Homo sapiens: one gene and its partners. The protein of the gene in region 1 purifies or fractionates together with the protein of each later gene. This does not show direct contact. Each region holds a gene or a part of one and is shown on either strand. Other genes may lie near its edges.

Evidence for each region. The genes of interacting proteins can lie anywhere in the genome.
Region 2: the proteins of LRP1 (region 1) and KCTD18 purify together in Homo sapiens (affinity purification with mass spectrometry; 2 studies listed by BioGRID and IntAct, with this or other methods). This does not show direct contact.
Region 3: the proteins of LRP1 (region 1) and LOXL2 purify together in Homo sapiens (affinity purification with mass spectrometry; 2 studies listed by BioGRID and IntAct, with this or other methods). This does not show direct contact.
Region 4: the proteins of LRP1 (region 1) and SLC25A25 purify together in Homo sapiens (affinity purification with mass spectrometry; 2 studies listed by BioGRID and IntAct, with this or other methods). This does not show direct contact.

What each region holds. Positions count from the first base shown.
Region 1 is NC_000012.12:57,208,483-57,211,171, reverse strand, and holds part of LRP1 (prolow-density lipoprotein receptor-related protein 1 preproprotein), read right to left. Parts: intron 2,462-2,689; coding exon 2,355-2,461; intron 2,090-2,354; coding exon 1,973-2,089; intron 1,481-1,972; coding exon 1,304-1,480; intron 1,144-1,303; coding exon 1,003-1,143; intron 866-1,002; coding exon 692-865; intron 455-691; coding exon 293-454; intron 1-292. UniProt on the Homo sapiens protein: Endocytic receptor involved in endocytosis and in phagocytosis of apoptotic cells. Required for early embryonic development. Involved in cellular lipid homeostasis.
Region 2 is NC_000002.12:200,500,069-200,503,568, forward strand, and holds part of KCTD18 (BTB/POZ domain-containing protein KCTD18), read right to left. Parts: intron 1-3,500.
Region 3 is NC_000008.11:23,296,397-23,299,758, reverse strand, and holds the end of LOXL2 (lysyl oxidase homolog 2 precursor), read left to right. Parts: intron 1-811; coding exon 812-923; intron 924-1,636; coding exon 1,637-1,716; 3' UTR 1,717-2,862; downstream 2,863-3,362. UniProt on the Homo sapiens protein: Mediates the post-translational oxidative deamination of lysine residues on target proteins leading to the formation of deaminated lysine (allysine).
Region 4 is NC_000009.12:128,071,232-128,074,731, forward strand, and holds part of SLC25A25 (mitochondrial adenyl nucleotide antiporter SLC25A25), read left to right. Parts: intron 1-3,500. UniProt on the Homo sapiens protein: Electroneutral antiporter that most probably mediates the transport of adenyl nucleotides through the inner mitochondrial membrane.

The sequences.
Region 1 (2,689 bases):
GGTTGGGGAGGGAGAGAAGTGCCTCAAGCCCCACCCTCATGAGGGCTCTCCATAGGTTGAACAGAGCTTTTCTGTTTGCATAATCTTGGTGCAGGGGGTGCACTGCCTCAGGGGAAGTGTGCCAGCACCTTTGTGGGGAAGCGCCAGCAGCTTGGGCCTGGCTCAGCTGCATAAGGCCTTCTTTCCTGAACTTGCCCCTGTGGGTCCCAGGCACAGGTTGAACATCACCCCATGCTCTGGGGTCCCCCGTCACCCTCCCGCATGCCCTGGGGCCCAGGGATGGCTCACTCACGGTACTGGCAGCGGTCGCCCAGGAAGCCGGGTAGGCATCGGCACTGGGGCTGGTTGCCCTGGTTGACAGTGCAGGTGCTGTTGTTGGCACAGTAGCCCGCACACACCTGCTGGGTGCATTTGGGGCCCGTGAAGCCCGTGGGGCACCGGCACGTGGGCATGCCTGGTGGGAGAGGATGTGTGAGCGCGACTGTGGCCCTCGAGACCACCTGGCCCTATAGCAGAGGAATGGGCTGGGGGGACCTGGGCGAGAAGCAGAGACTGGAGTGACTGGATGCTGGGTTGTGGAAAGGAGGCTGGAGGCGAGGCAGGGGCTGGGCATTTGCCTGAGGTGGGGTGGTGGGTGGCGGGGCTGGGGCCCAGGGGCAAGGAGCAGGCGTGGCGGGATGAGGGGGCATACCAGAGGGGGAGGCAGCACAGGTGCCCCCATTGCGACAGTGCTCCCAGCACTGGTCCAGTTCACACTTGTCACCCGTGTAGCGGGGTTGGCAGCGGCACTTGGGCTGCCTCCGTGCATTGAGGAAACAGCTGCCACCGTTGAAGCACTGCAGGTTACAGGTTCCAGGCCGGGGAGCTGCAGGAAGGGCCCGTCAAGGGGCAGAGCCAGGGGAATAGGAGGAGAGGGACAGGCAACAAGGTCAGGGGAAGTCAGGAGCCACAGGAAGGAGATGGTCCTGAGGCATGGCTGGGACTGGGAGGGCATAAGCATACCATCTGGGGGGGGCGTTGGAGAGGGCACAGGCACGCATGTGCCGTTGTCCAGCCGCTTCCCATTGGGACAGGTGCAGACAGGCCCACTGGGGCTCAGCAGGCAGAGCCACTCGCATTTCTTGCGGTCACATGGGTTGGTCACTGCAGGTATGGGTGGGGTGGGGAGGATGCTGAGCAGGACCCTTCTCTGAGCCCTGTGAGCCCAGGGTGACCCCCTCTCCACCAGGTCCCAGGGCCACAGCTTGGAGACTCAATGCCCACAGGCCTCCCTTCCCCAGCCCAGGCTCCCCTCTGCCCCCACCTTCGGGCTGCTTGTGCTGATGGTAAAGGACCACGTCAGAGGCGTGGCTCAGGCCCCCTGTCAGGTTGACCAAGGGGCTGTGGCCAAACTTATGGATCTTGAAGACACGATTATTGATGTAGGTGACACCATAGATGTAATCCTCAAAGACGTCGATGCTGAAGGGGTGACTTAGGCCTGGGGGAGGAGGTGGAGTCAGAGGGGACCTGAGGGGCACTCAGGCCCTGGCCATGCTGTCCACGACACTGGCACCTGTGGTTCCCAGACACCTCAAACTCAACACATCCAGACCAAATTCTCTCTCCCCACACCGGTTCCTCCTCCTGTGGCCACTACTGGCAAAAGGTCCCATCACCCCCAGACTTCTGGGGTCAGTCATGACTGACTTCTATTCCTTCTCCCCCAATTTGCTACGTTCCTAATGTACCTATGCTGCCTCCGTGCAACCCAACCAATGAATGGACAAGTAGGCCAGAGGGTCAGGGTGGGTCTCAGGCCTGCAGGGCTGGTTCAGGGGGAGGCCAGCTGGAGAGGCCTGGAAGGCGCTGCAGCATTGCTGGGGGTCAGTGACAAAGGATGGGAGGCATTGAAGTGAGGCCTTTGGCTCAGTAGGGAGGATGGCAAGGCTGGGGACAGGGCTGGGGACTGCGACTTATGCCGGGCTCTGACCTCGTTTGCTGTCAGCAGCCACAATGGGGTCCGTGCCATTGAGCCGGATGCTGCCGATGACTGAAAGCTTGGCGTCTGCCCAGTACAGCCGCTCATTGTGATAATCCACGGCCAGGCCTGGGGAGAGAGAGAGCACTGTGAGAGCTTGGCCTCCCCAACCCAGGCTCGGGGTGGAAAGAACTGCCTCCATGCCCGGGACAGCTCCACCCTGTTCATACGCCACTCACAGTCACCTCTTTCGGGAAAAGCCTCCACGGCCAATCTGCCCTGCCCCAGTCCAAGCCCCATCCCATCCCTTGCTTTTGTGTGACTTCAGCAGCAGCTGGGCTCTGCGAGCCGGGCCCCCTCCATGCCCGTCCCTCCTGCACCCTGCCCCACAAACCTGTGGGCCACTGAATGTTGTCCTGCACCAGTGTCTCCCGAAGCGTCCCATCCATCGCTGCCGTCTCAATCTTGGGGTGGTTGCCCCAGTCTGACCAGTACATGGTCCTGGGGAGGGAGAAGGGGTGAGTGTGGGCAGGCCGGAGGGCCAGAGGAGGCAGGCCCAGGCAGGACACCAGCTTCTTGGTCTGGGGACAGGGACTGCTGGGGACTGGGAGGAGGGCATTCTGTCCTTCTACAGAGAAGCAGGCGGGAGTCTGCTTCTGAGCAGGTTGAGGGGCTTTTCCTCTAAAACCACAGTGTGCTCATTCAGAGCCACCGACGCTGGCAGAGCTG
Region 2 (3,500 bases), on another chromosome or scaffold:
AAAATTCAACAACCCTTCCTGCTAAAAACTCTCAATAAATTAGGTATTGATGGGACGTATCTCAAAATAATAAGAGCTATCTATGACAAACCCATAGCCAATATCATACTGAATGGGCAAAAACTGGAAGCATTCCCTTTGAAAACTGGCACAAGACAGGGATGCCCTCTCTCACCACTCCTATTCAACATAGTGTTGGAAGTTCTGGCTAGGGCAATTAGGCAGGAGAAGGAAATAAAGGGTATTCAGTTACAAAAAGAGGAAGTCAAATTGTCCCTGTTTGCAGACGACATGATTGTATATCTAGAAAACCCCACTGTCTCAGCCCAAAATCTCCTTAAGCTGATAAGCAACTTCAGCAAAGTCTCAGGATACAAAATCAGTGTGCAAAAATCACAAGCATTCTTCTACACCAACAACAGACAAACAGAGAGCCAAATCATGAGTGAACTCCCATTCACAATTGCTTCAAAGAGAATAAAATACCTAGGAATCCAACTTACAAGGGATGTGAAGGACCTCTTCAAGGAGAACTACAAACCACTGCTCAAGGAAATAAAAGAGGATACAAACAAATGGAAGAATATTCCATGCTCATGGGTAGGAAGAATCAATATTGTGAAAATGGCCATACTGCCCAAGGTAATTTACAGATTCAATGCCATCCCCATCAAGCTACCAATGACTTTCTTCACAGAATTGGAAAAAACTACTTTAAAGTTCATATGGAACCAAAAAAGAGCCCGCATCGCCAAGTCAATCCTGAGCCAAAAGAACAAAGCTGGAGGAGGCATCATGCTACCTGACTTCAAACTATACTACAAGGCTACAGTAACCAAAACAGCATGGTACTGGTACCAAAACAGAGATATAGATCAATGGAACAGAACAGAGCCCTCAGAAATAACGCCACATATCTACAACTATCTGATCTTTGACAAACCTGAGAAAAACAAGCAATGGAGAAAGGATTCCCTATTTAATAAATGGTGCTGGGAAAACTGGCTAGCCATATGTAGAAAGCTGAAACTGGATCCCTTCCTTACACCGTATACAAAAATCAATTCAAGATGGATTAAAGACTTAAACGTTAGACCTAAAACCATGAAAACCCTAGAAGAAAACCTAGGTATTACCATTCAGGACATAGGCATGGGCAAGGACTTCATGTCTAAAACACCAAAAGCAATGGCAACAAAAGCCAAAATTGACAAATGGGATCTAATTAAACTAAAGAGCTTCTTGCACAGCAAAAGAAACTACCATCAGAGTGAACAGGCAACCTACAAAATGGGAGAAAATTTTTGCAACCTACTCATCTGACAAAGGGCTAATATCCAGAATCTACAATGAACTCAAACAAATTTACAAGAAAAAAACAAACAACCCCATCAAAAAGTGGGCGAAGGACATGAACAGACACTTCTCAAAAGAAGACATTTATGCAGCCAAAAAACACATGAAAAAATGCTCACCATCACTGGCCATCAGAGAAATGCAAATCAAAACCACCATGAGATACCATCTCACACCAGTTAGAATGGCAATCATTAAAAAGTCAGGAAACAACAGGTGCTGGAGAGGATGTGGAGAAATAGGAACACTTTTACACTGTTGGTGGGACTGTAAACTAGTTCAACCATTGTGGAAGTCAGTGTGGCGATTCCTCAGGGATCTAGTATTAGAAATACCATTTGACCCAGCCATCCCATTACTGGGTATATACCCAAAGGATTATAAATCATGCTGCTATAAAGACACATGCACACGTATGTTTATTGCGGCATTATTCACAATAGCAAAGACTTGGAACCAACCCAAATGTCCAACAATGATAGACTGGATTAAGAAAATGTGGCACATATACACCATGGAATACTACGCAGCCATAAAAAATGATGAGTTCATGTCCTTTGTAGGGACATGGATGAAATTGGAAATCATCATTCTCAGTAAACTATCGCAAGAACAAAAAACCAAACACCGCATATTCTTACTTATAGGTGGGAATTGAACAATGAGAACACATGGACACAGGAAGGGGAACATCACACTCTGGGGACTGTTGTGGGGTGGGGGTAGGGGGGAGGGATAGCATTGGGAGATATACCTAATGCTAGATGATGAGTTAGTGGGTGCAGCGCACTAGCATGGTACATGTATACATATGTAACTAACCTGCACATTGTGCACGTGTACCCTAAAACTTAAAAGTATAATAATAATAAATTTAAAAAAAAGAAAAAAAAAGAAATCTTCATATAATAACCAAAATGTAGACCTTTTTCTTTTCCCTTTAGAGTAATTTCCCCAAAATTTCCCATTTTACACAATCTTCCATTCACCTTCTACTGACTAACCCCATGGTTGGTCCTTATTTTTAGCTCCAAATTCTAATCATGGACTAACCAGATTGATTTTACTTTTACACGGAAAGATACGAATATGTAAACTCAATATCTAAACTCCGTATATGCTGCCTGAACTCATTTGGCACTTATCAACCTATTCATTCATTCATTTGAATATTAAGTTCCTACTCTGAGCTGAGCTCTAACGTCCTGCAGATATAACAATGAACAATGGTGAGACAGGGTCCCAGTCCTCCCAGAGTTTATAGCTAATGCAGAAGACAGACATTGAATAAGCCACCAGCACCCTGTGTAAGAAGTGCCACCAGGACCGGGTGCAGGGGCTCACACCTGTAACCCCAGCACTTTGGGAGGCCGAGGCGGGCAGATCACCTGAGGTTGGGAGTTCGAGACCAGCCTGACCAACATGGAGAAACCCTGTCTCTACTAAAAATACAAAATTAGCTGGGCGTGGTGGCACATGCCTGTAATCCCAGCTACTCAGGAGGCTGAGGCAGGAGAATCACTTGAACCCGGGAGGTAGAGGTTGCGGTGAACTGAGATCATGCAATTGCACTCCAGCCTGGGCAACAAGAGCAAGACTCCATCTCAAAAGAAAAAAAAAAAAAAAAAAGAAGTGCCACCAGTGAGACCACAAGGTGCTCCAGGGCAGAGAGCAGAAGGGTTTCACCCAGTGAAGCTGCCAGGGCCTTCCCTGGGAGGAACAGCTTTACTGCTGTAAGTACTCTGGACAGGTACTATATTGTGTTCACTGTTATATCCCAAGTGTCTGGAATAGTGCCTGACACAAACGAGATGCCTAGTATTTACTGACTCAGTGAATGAAAATGGGGCCCTACCATGTCTTGCACTTTCATTTAATATTGCTATCTAACTCCTATATTGGTTTGGAATTTTACTTACACATACATCTACAAGAATTCCCAACTATACTATAAACTTCAAGGGCAAAGAACTACATGTTGTATTTCTTGGTGTCCCACGCAGCCCCTTGTACAGTGCCATACATGTCACAGGCACTTGAAACAAACATGTGTTGGCTGACAGCATGAATGTGGGCATGCTGTGTCCTTTTTGAATAAAAACCAGGAATAAAAGATTACAGAGCTGAGACTTCTGAAGATGAGC
Region 3 (3,362 bases), on another chromosome or scaffold:
CCTGCTGTGGGTCGCAGCCCTTCCAAATGTGGCAGGACCCTCGAGGGAAGGCCTGTCATCTGTGTCCTCTGCCCCTCTGTTCACCACTGTTGTCTCTTCTCCCTCTCCCTCCCTTTCTCTTTTCTCCTCGGGTCCTCACCGTAAACCTCCCCTTTTCTGTTCCCTCACAGACACTCTCCCAGAATATGTCCTTCCTATTCCTGCTGTAGCTGGGGGGATGCGGATACAGGGGTGGGTGGAAGGATGGGGAGAGGGTGCAACTTCTCCAGCAGCCCCAGAGCCAGGCCCTCGGCCAGCAGAGCAGACAGGGACATGGATCCCCAAGTCCCACCTGTCACTTTACAGAGAGAGGAAGGGACATGTCCACAGTCACACGCCTGTGACGAGTGTCCCATCTCCAACGCCCAGGCAGCCCTCTTCCAGGTTCCCACACCGCCAGGTCCTCCCTGCACCCTTCTGCTTCTCTTCAGCATCTTCTTTTTGGGGCCTCCCCAGACCCCAACTTCTGCCTTCCCCAGAACTCCCAGGAGTGGGTGACCCCCTTCCGAAGGCCCACCCTGGGTAGAGGGGTGTGTGTTACACGGATATGGACAGAGGGCAGGGTTTCCCTCTTCCAGGCCATGCTTCCTCTGCTCCCTGACTCATCTCTTCCCCTCCCCAAGGACTTTGTTGAGACCCACAGACCCCCGTCTTGGGTCCCGGCACCTGCCACGCTCCCCTTCCCTGAGGTGCTGGTCTCTCAGAGCCCCAGGCCTGGGTGGAGGTGGCCGCAGAGGGAACAAGCAGCCTCCTCTGCCCTGCTTCTCCCTAGGTTGTTATTAACCCCAACTTCGAGGTTGCAGAATCCGATTACTCCAACAACATCATGAAATGCAGGAGCCGCTATGACGGCCACCGCATCTGGATGTACAACTGCCACATAGGTAAGGCCAGGCCGCCCCCACTCCAGGAAGCAGGCGGGAGCTGCCCTACTTTCTCAAGGACCCAGAGGCAGCTTCCTAATTTGGGTAAAGAGCTCGGGGAATGCAGCCAGCATCACATTTCCACATTCAGGACAGAAGCCACAGACACACAGGCCTGGATGGAGACTGAGTTTTTACAGCCAGCTCCGGCCACGGATAGAGGATGGTACAGGACCAGGCCAGCCCAGTGCAGACCCCAAGGCTTTTTAAGGGTTGGAGCTGAGGCCACTGGCTCATTATGTATGTGACCTCAAAAATGTGGGCATCAGCAATCTGTGGGCTCTGCCTATCAGGTTTTTCTGTCGAGAGCTGGAAGCTAGCAAACTACTGTTATTTCTAGTCTCCAATAAAGACACTTTTTTCCTTGGATGATAGGACTTGGGGAACAAAAGGGAAGGCAGAGCTTTTTCCTCTGCAGGAAAAGTCATGGGCCTCACTCTTGGCAAAAGGTTAAAATTAAAGGCGCTATATTTATTCACTCGTTCACTCAACTTTGACAGAGCACCTGCTATGTGCCCAGCCCTAGAGATGGCCAGTGCCTGGCACCTGTCCTTTTGAGGAGGGCACACACAGGTGGCCCCAGCAGCCCCTGAGGCCCACTCCCCTGGCTCAGGGTCAGGCAAGGCCCGAGCATCTCATTTGTCCACTCTCTCTACCCGATTCTCGCTCTTCAGGTGGTTCCTTCAGCGAAGAGACGGAAAAAAAGTTTGAGCACTTCAGCGGGCTCTTAAACAACCAGCTGTCCCCGCAGTAAAGAAGCCTGCGTGGTCAACTCCTGTCTTCAGGCCACACCACATCTTCCATGGGACTTCCCCCCAACAACTGAGTCTGAACGAATGCCACGTGCCCTCACCCAGCCCGGCCCCCACCCTGTCCAGACCCCTACAGCTGTGTCTAAGCTCAGGAGGAAAGGGACCCTCCCATCATTCATGGGGGGCTGCTACCTGACCCTTGGGGCCTGAGAAGGCCTTGCGGGGGTGGGGTTTGTCCACAGAGCTGCTGGAGCAGCACCAAGAGCCAGTCTTGACCGGGATGAGGCCCACAGACAGGTTGTCATCAGCTTGTCCCATTCAAGCCACCGAGCTCACCACAGACACAGTGGAGCCGCGCTCTTCTCCAGTGACACGTGGACAAATGCGGGCTCATCAGCCCCCCCAGAGAGGGTCAGGCCGAACCCCATTTCTCCTCCTCTTAGGTCATTTTCAGCAAACTTGAATATCTAGACCTCTCTTCCAATGAAACCCTCCAGTCTATTATAGTCACATAGATAATGGTGCCACGTGTTTTCTGATTTGGTGAGCTCAGACTTGGTGCTTCCCTATCCACAGCCCCCACCCCTTGTTTTTCAAGATACTATTATTATATTTTCACAGACTTTTGAAGCACAAATTTATTGGCATTTAATATTGGACATCTGGGCCCTTGGAAGTACAAATCTAAGGAAAAACCAACCCACTGTGTAAGTGACTCATCTTCCTGTTGTTCCAATTCTGTGGGTTTTTGATTCAACGGTGCTATAACCAGGGTCCTGGGTGACAGGGCGCTCACTGAGCACCATGTGTCATCACAGACACTTACACATACTTGAAACTTGGAATAAAAGAAAGATTTATGAAACGTGTCTGTGTTTCCTTTGACCCACAGCACCTGGGCCCTGAGCAGCAGGCTTCCTATGTTCAGTGGCCAGAAGCAGAGCTTCAGGTACATTCGTGGTTTTCTCCGGTGGACATGGGTCCTCAGATCCCCTCCAGCCCAGTGTGGCCACCAGGGCACCTCCTTCAATAGACTCCAAAAGGGGCAGCTCCTACCATCTGGGAGAAGCAATCTAAGGAGATCACAAAAAGTAACGGAACAGGAGTCATAATCTTTCTTGAACTCCTGTGGTTTTTACTGAAACTTGTCAGAAGGCATAGGAGTTGTGCGAGGGCTGGATGGGAAGTCTAGATTTAAACAACAGCCACCAGGCAGCTTATCAAAGCAAGAGGGCATCCGTTCACAGGACAGGGGCTCCCAGCAATTCCCAGTGGCAGTGGGGGGGTGGCTGGCCCATGCGACTCACCCAGACACAGGGGACTTCCCCTTGTGTCAACAGCATGCTAGGGCCCAGCAAACTAGAGGGTAGGTAGGACCACCTTGGCACCAACTCCACTCAAACCACAATTGAATGAGGGCGTCGGCACGCATTCAGATCTCACCTCTTGCCTTTGTTTACATTTATTTTGCAGGAACTGGCACTGACTGACAGGTAAGACCAGGACCAGCCCAGGGGTCCCAGAACTGTCCCACAGCACAGGCCAGAAGGCTGGATACCTGAACTGCCAAAGGAGTGTGGGCAGGTGCTACACAGCAGGTGCAACCCAGCTCCCAAAATTGGGCAGGCTGTGCACAGAGGCCCTGCAG
Region 4 (3,500 bases), on another chromosome or scaffold:
TCTTTCTGGTTTTGAAAGAAAACTTTTATTAACCAAAGAGAGCCTAGCCCCTTGGGGTCACTTTGACTCTAAAATCTTTGACTCCATGACAGATCTAAGTTCTATGATAGGAAGCATTTCTTTATTCTTTTGGTGTGTGGGTTTAGTATAGAGTGTATTTCATTTATTTATCTATTATTATTATTACTTTTCTGAGATGGAGTTGCACTTTTGTTGCCCAAGCAGGAGTGCAATGGAATGATCTCAGCTCACTGCAACCTTTGCCTCCTGGGTTCAAGTGATTCTCCTGGCTCAGCCTCCCTGGGACTACAGGCACGCACCACCACGCCCTGCTAATTTTTTTTTTTTTTTTGTATTTTTAGTAGAAATGGGGTTTCACCATGTTGGCCAGGCTGGTCTCAAACTCCTGACCTCAGATGATCTGCCCGCCTTGGCCCCCCAAAGCACTGGGATTACAGGCGTGAGCTACCGCGCCTGGCCTATTTATCTATTTTATTTTTTTTTGAGAAGCAGTCCGCTCTGTCGCCCAGGCTGGAGTGCGATGGTGTGATTTCACTGAAACCTCTGCCTCCTGGGTTCAAGCAGTTCTCCTGCCTCAGCTTCCTGAGTAGCTGGGATTACAGGCGCCCGCCACCATGGCCCGGCTAATTTTTGTACTATTAGGAGACAAGGGATTTCACCATGTTGGCCAGGCTGGTCTCGAACTCTTGACCTCAAGTGATCTACCCACCTCGGCCTCCCAAAGTTCAGGGATTACAGGCGCGAGCAACTGCACCAGGCAGTATAGACTGTATTTCTACTACTTTTTTGGCTTTTGAACAAATTCAGTTGTTATACAGCTTTGAGATCAGAAATAATTTATTAGCTCATTACCTGTAAAGGAGCACAAGTTAGTCCTGTGGGGAACGTTTGAAGTCTTGGAGAGAAGATCTGCCTTTTTGTAAATAACTGGGCAACAGGAAGACATCCTGCCTCTTGTACCCCCATACCACTTCCTGTTGAATTAGCATTAGTATTAACTGCCTACAGAAAAAGCAGTGCTGAGGCTTTGCAGAACTAGCAGGAGCCGAAAGAGAACTGTGGGGCCCTTTGGGTCAAAATGGGTCATCTGCCATGGGAATAGATGTTGAAGAACACATCAAACTTTGGAAGGTGCTTCCTATGGCCCATATGAAACCAGTGTGAGATGCTGGGGTTTGCACGGGAATCAGCTGTGAGTGCTTATCAGGGGGTGATGGGTAAACCCAGGCCATGTGACTTCACAAAGCCTCTTCTTAGCTTATAACAGTCTGGGTCAAGTTTTCTTTAAAAGTAAACCAGCAAGTTTTGCCATCTGCCTTTGTTTGAGAAGAGATGGGACACTCATAAAAATTGCTTAAAATGGAAGTGGGCAGAGAAACCGTTGGCAGCCAGCCAGGGAAATTTTCTTTGTAAAGGGCATGTAAGCGAGAAGCTTGTTCTGGGACAAAAAAAGGGAAGAGTTCATTAAAGAAGAAAGAAAAAAGATGACGACAACAGTAGTGACTTTGGGAGATGAGACTCAGCCAGAGCTAATTATAGATTGCCTATTTAAGGCATTTTCATGTGACCAAATACAATCTGTGTCTTAAAACAAATTTAAAACATAGGTTAGAACTCAGGCAGCCAATTAGAGGAAGAAAGCAAGCTGTATTCTGTGTAAACAGTTGTCTCTCCAGCTGAGGCTTTGGGGCTCTTGTAAGGGGCTGGTGTTTATTGCAGGTGAGGTTCTAGATGAGCTGCAGTTTGCTCATTTAGAGACTGGCATCCACACCATCTCTTTTGAGCCCCACAAAAATTTGTTAAGTAAGCAAGTCAGTAAAATGATTTTCACTCCATTTTACTAGGGAAGGAACAATGGTTCAAAAAGACAATGGAACAACCTCAAAGATCATTTGATCGCAAGGAAATTGGACCAGAGAAGGAATTGGAACCATCTTCTGATTCCTGCTCCTCTCCTCCTTAACACAGTTTTTTTCAGGAACATGAAGAGAATTCTCAAGTTCTTTTGGGGAAACTTGAGAAAGAGGAGGAGAGATAATTTAGAACCACATATTTTGCTCCCAAAGTATAGGTTTCAAGATTATCCAGTTTACCCTGTCAAAGAACAAGAATCCGCCCTCCCCCATTTCTCTCCCTGACCCGAGCAGTGCACATGAGGCAATCCCTATTGACTTGAAATTATTGAATGGAGATCAGTAATGTCAAGTTGGTATTGCTTAATCAGACAGACTGTTGAACTCTATACTTTTTAAATGTTTGGCCATTTGTGGATGTTTATCAAAAGAGCCAGACTTAGATAAGACAGTCTACAGAAGAAAGCTCCTTTCCAAGAGATAGACATTATTCGCTATAATATAATGGCCCTTTAGGAAAAGAAAAATGCTTTTCACAGATTGGATTAAATTCATATATTAAACTAATTGTGTTATATTGTTGCATAATCGGTCCCTGGCTCAAAGTCATAATTATCAAGTCAACTAGAATACTTTTTTTTTTTTTTGAGACAGAGTCTTCCTCTGTCACCCAGGCTGGAGTGCAGTGGCGTGATCTCAGCTCACTGAAACCTCTACCTCCCCGGTTCAAGCAATTCTTTGCCTCAGCCTCTGGTGTAGCTGGGATTACAGGCCTGCGCCACCATGCCCTGCTAATTTTTATATTTTCAGTAGAGACTGGGTTGCGCCATTTTGGCCAGGCTGGTATCCAACTCCTGGCCTCAAGTGATCCACCTGCCTCAGCCTCCCAAAGTGCTGGGATTACAGGTGTGAGCCACCATGCCTGTCCTTGAGAAGATTTTTTTGTGTGTGTGTGACGGATTCTCACTCTGTCACCCAGGCTGGAGTGCGGTGGTGCAATCTCGGCTCACTGCAACCTCCACCTCCCTGGTTTAAGCAATTCCCCTGCCTTAGCCTCCCAAGTAGCTGAGATTACTGGTGCACACCACCACGTCAGGCTAACTTTTTTGTATTTTTAGTAGAGACAGAGTTTCACCATGTTGGCCAGACTGGTCTCGAACTCCTGACCTCAGGCAGTCCGCCCACCTCAGCCTCCCAAAGTGCTGAAATTACAGGCGTGAGCCACCATGTCCAGCTGAGAAGATTTTTTTTTAATAAGTTGATATTTGGAAAGATGCAGTCCCATACCCTGATCCTAAAACCAAGTAACAAATAAGAATAGGGCTGGGTGTGGTGGCTCATGCCTGTAATCCCAGCACTTTGGGAGGTCGAGGCAGGTGGATTACCTGAGGTCAGGAGTTCAAGACCTGCCTGGCCAACATGGTGAAACCCCATCTGTATTAAAAATACAAAAATTAGCCGGGCGTGGTGGCACACGCCTGTAATCCCAGCTACTCGGAAGGCTGAGGCAGGAGAATTGCTTGATCCCAGGAGACGGAGGTTGCAGTGAGCTGAGATCGTGCCAACACGGGCCTGGCCGACAGAGCCAGACTCTGTCTCAAAAAACAAAACAAAACAAAAAAGAAC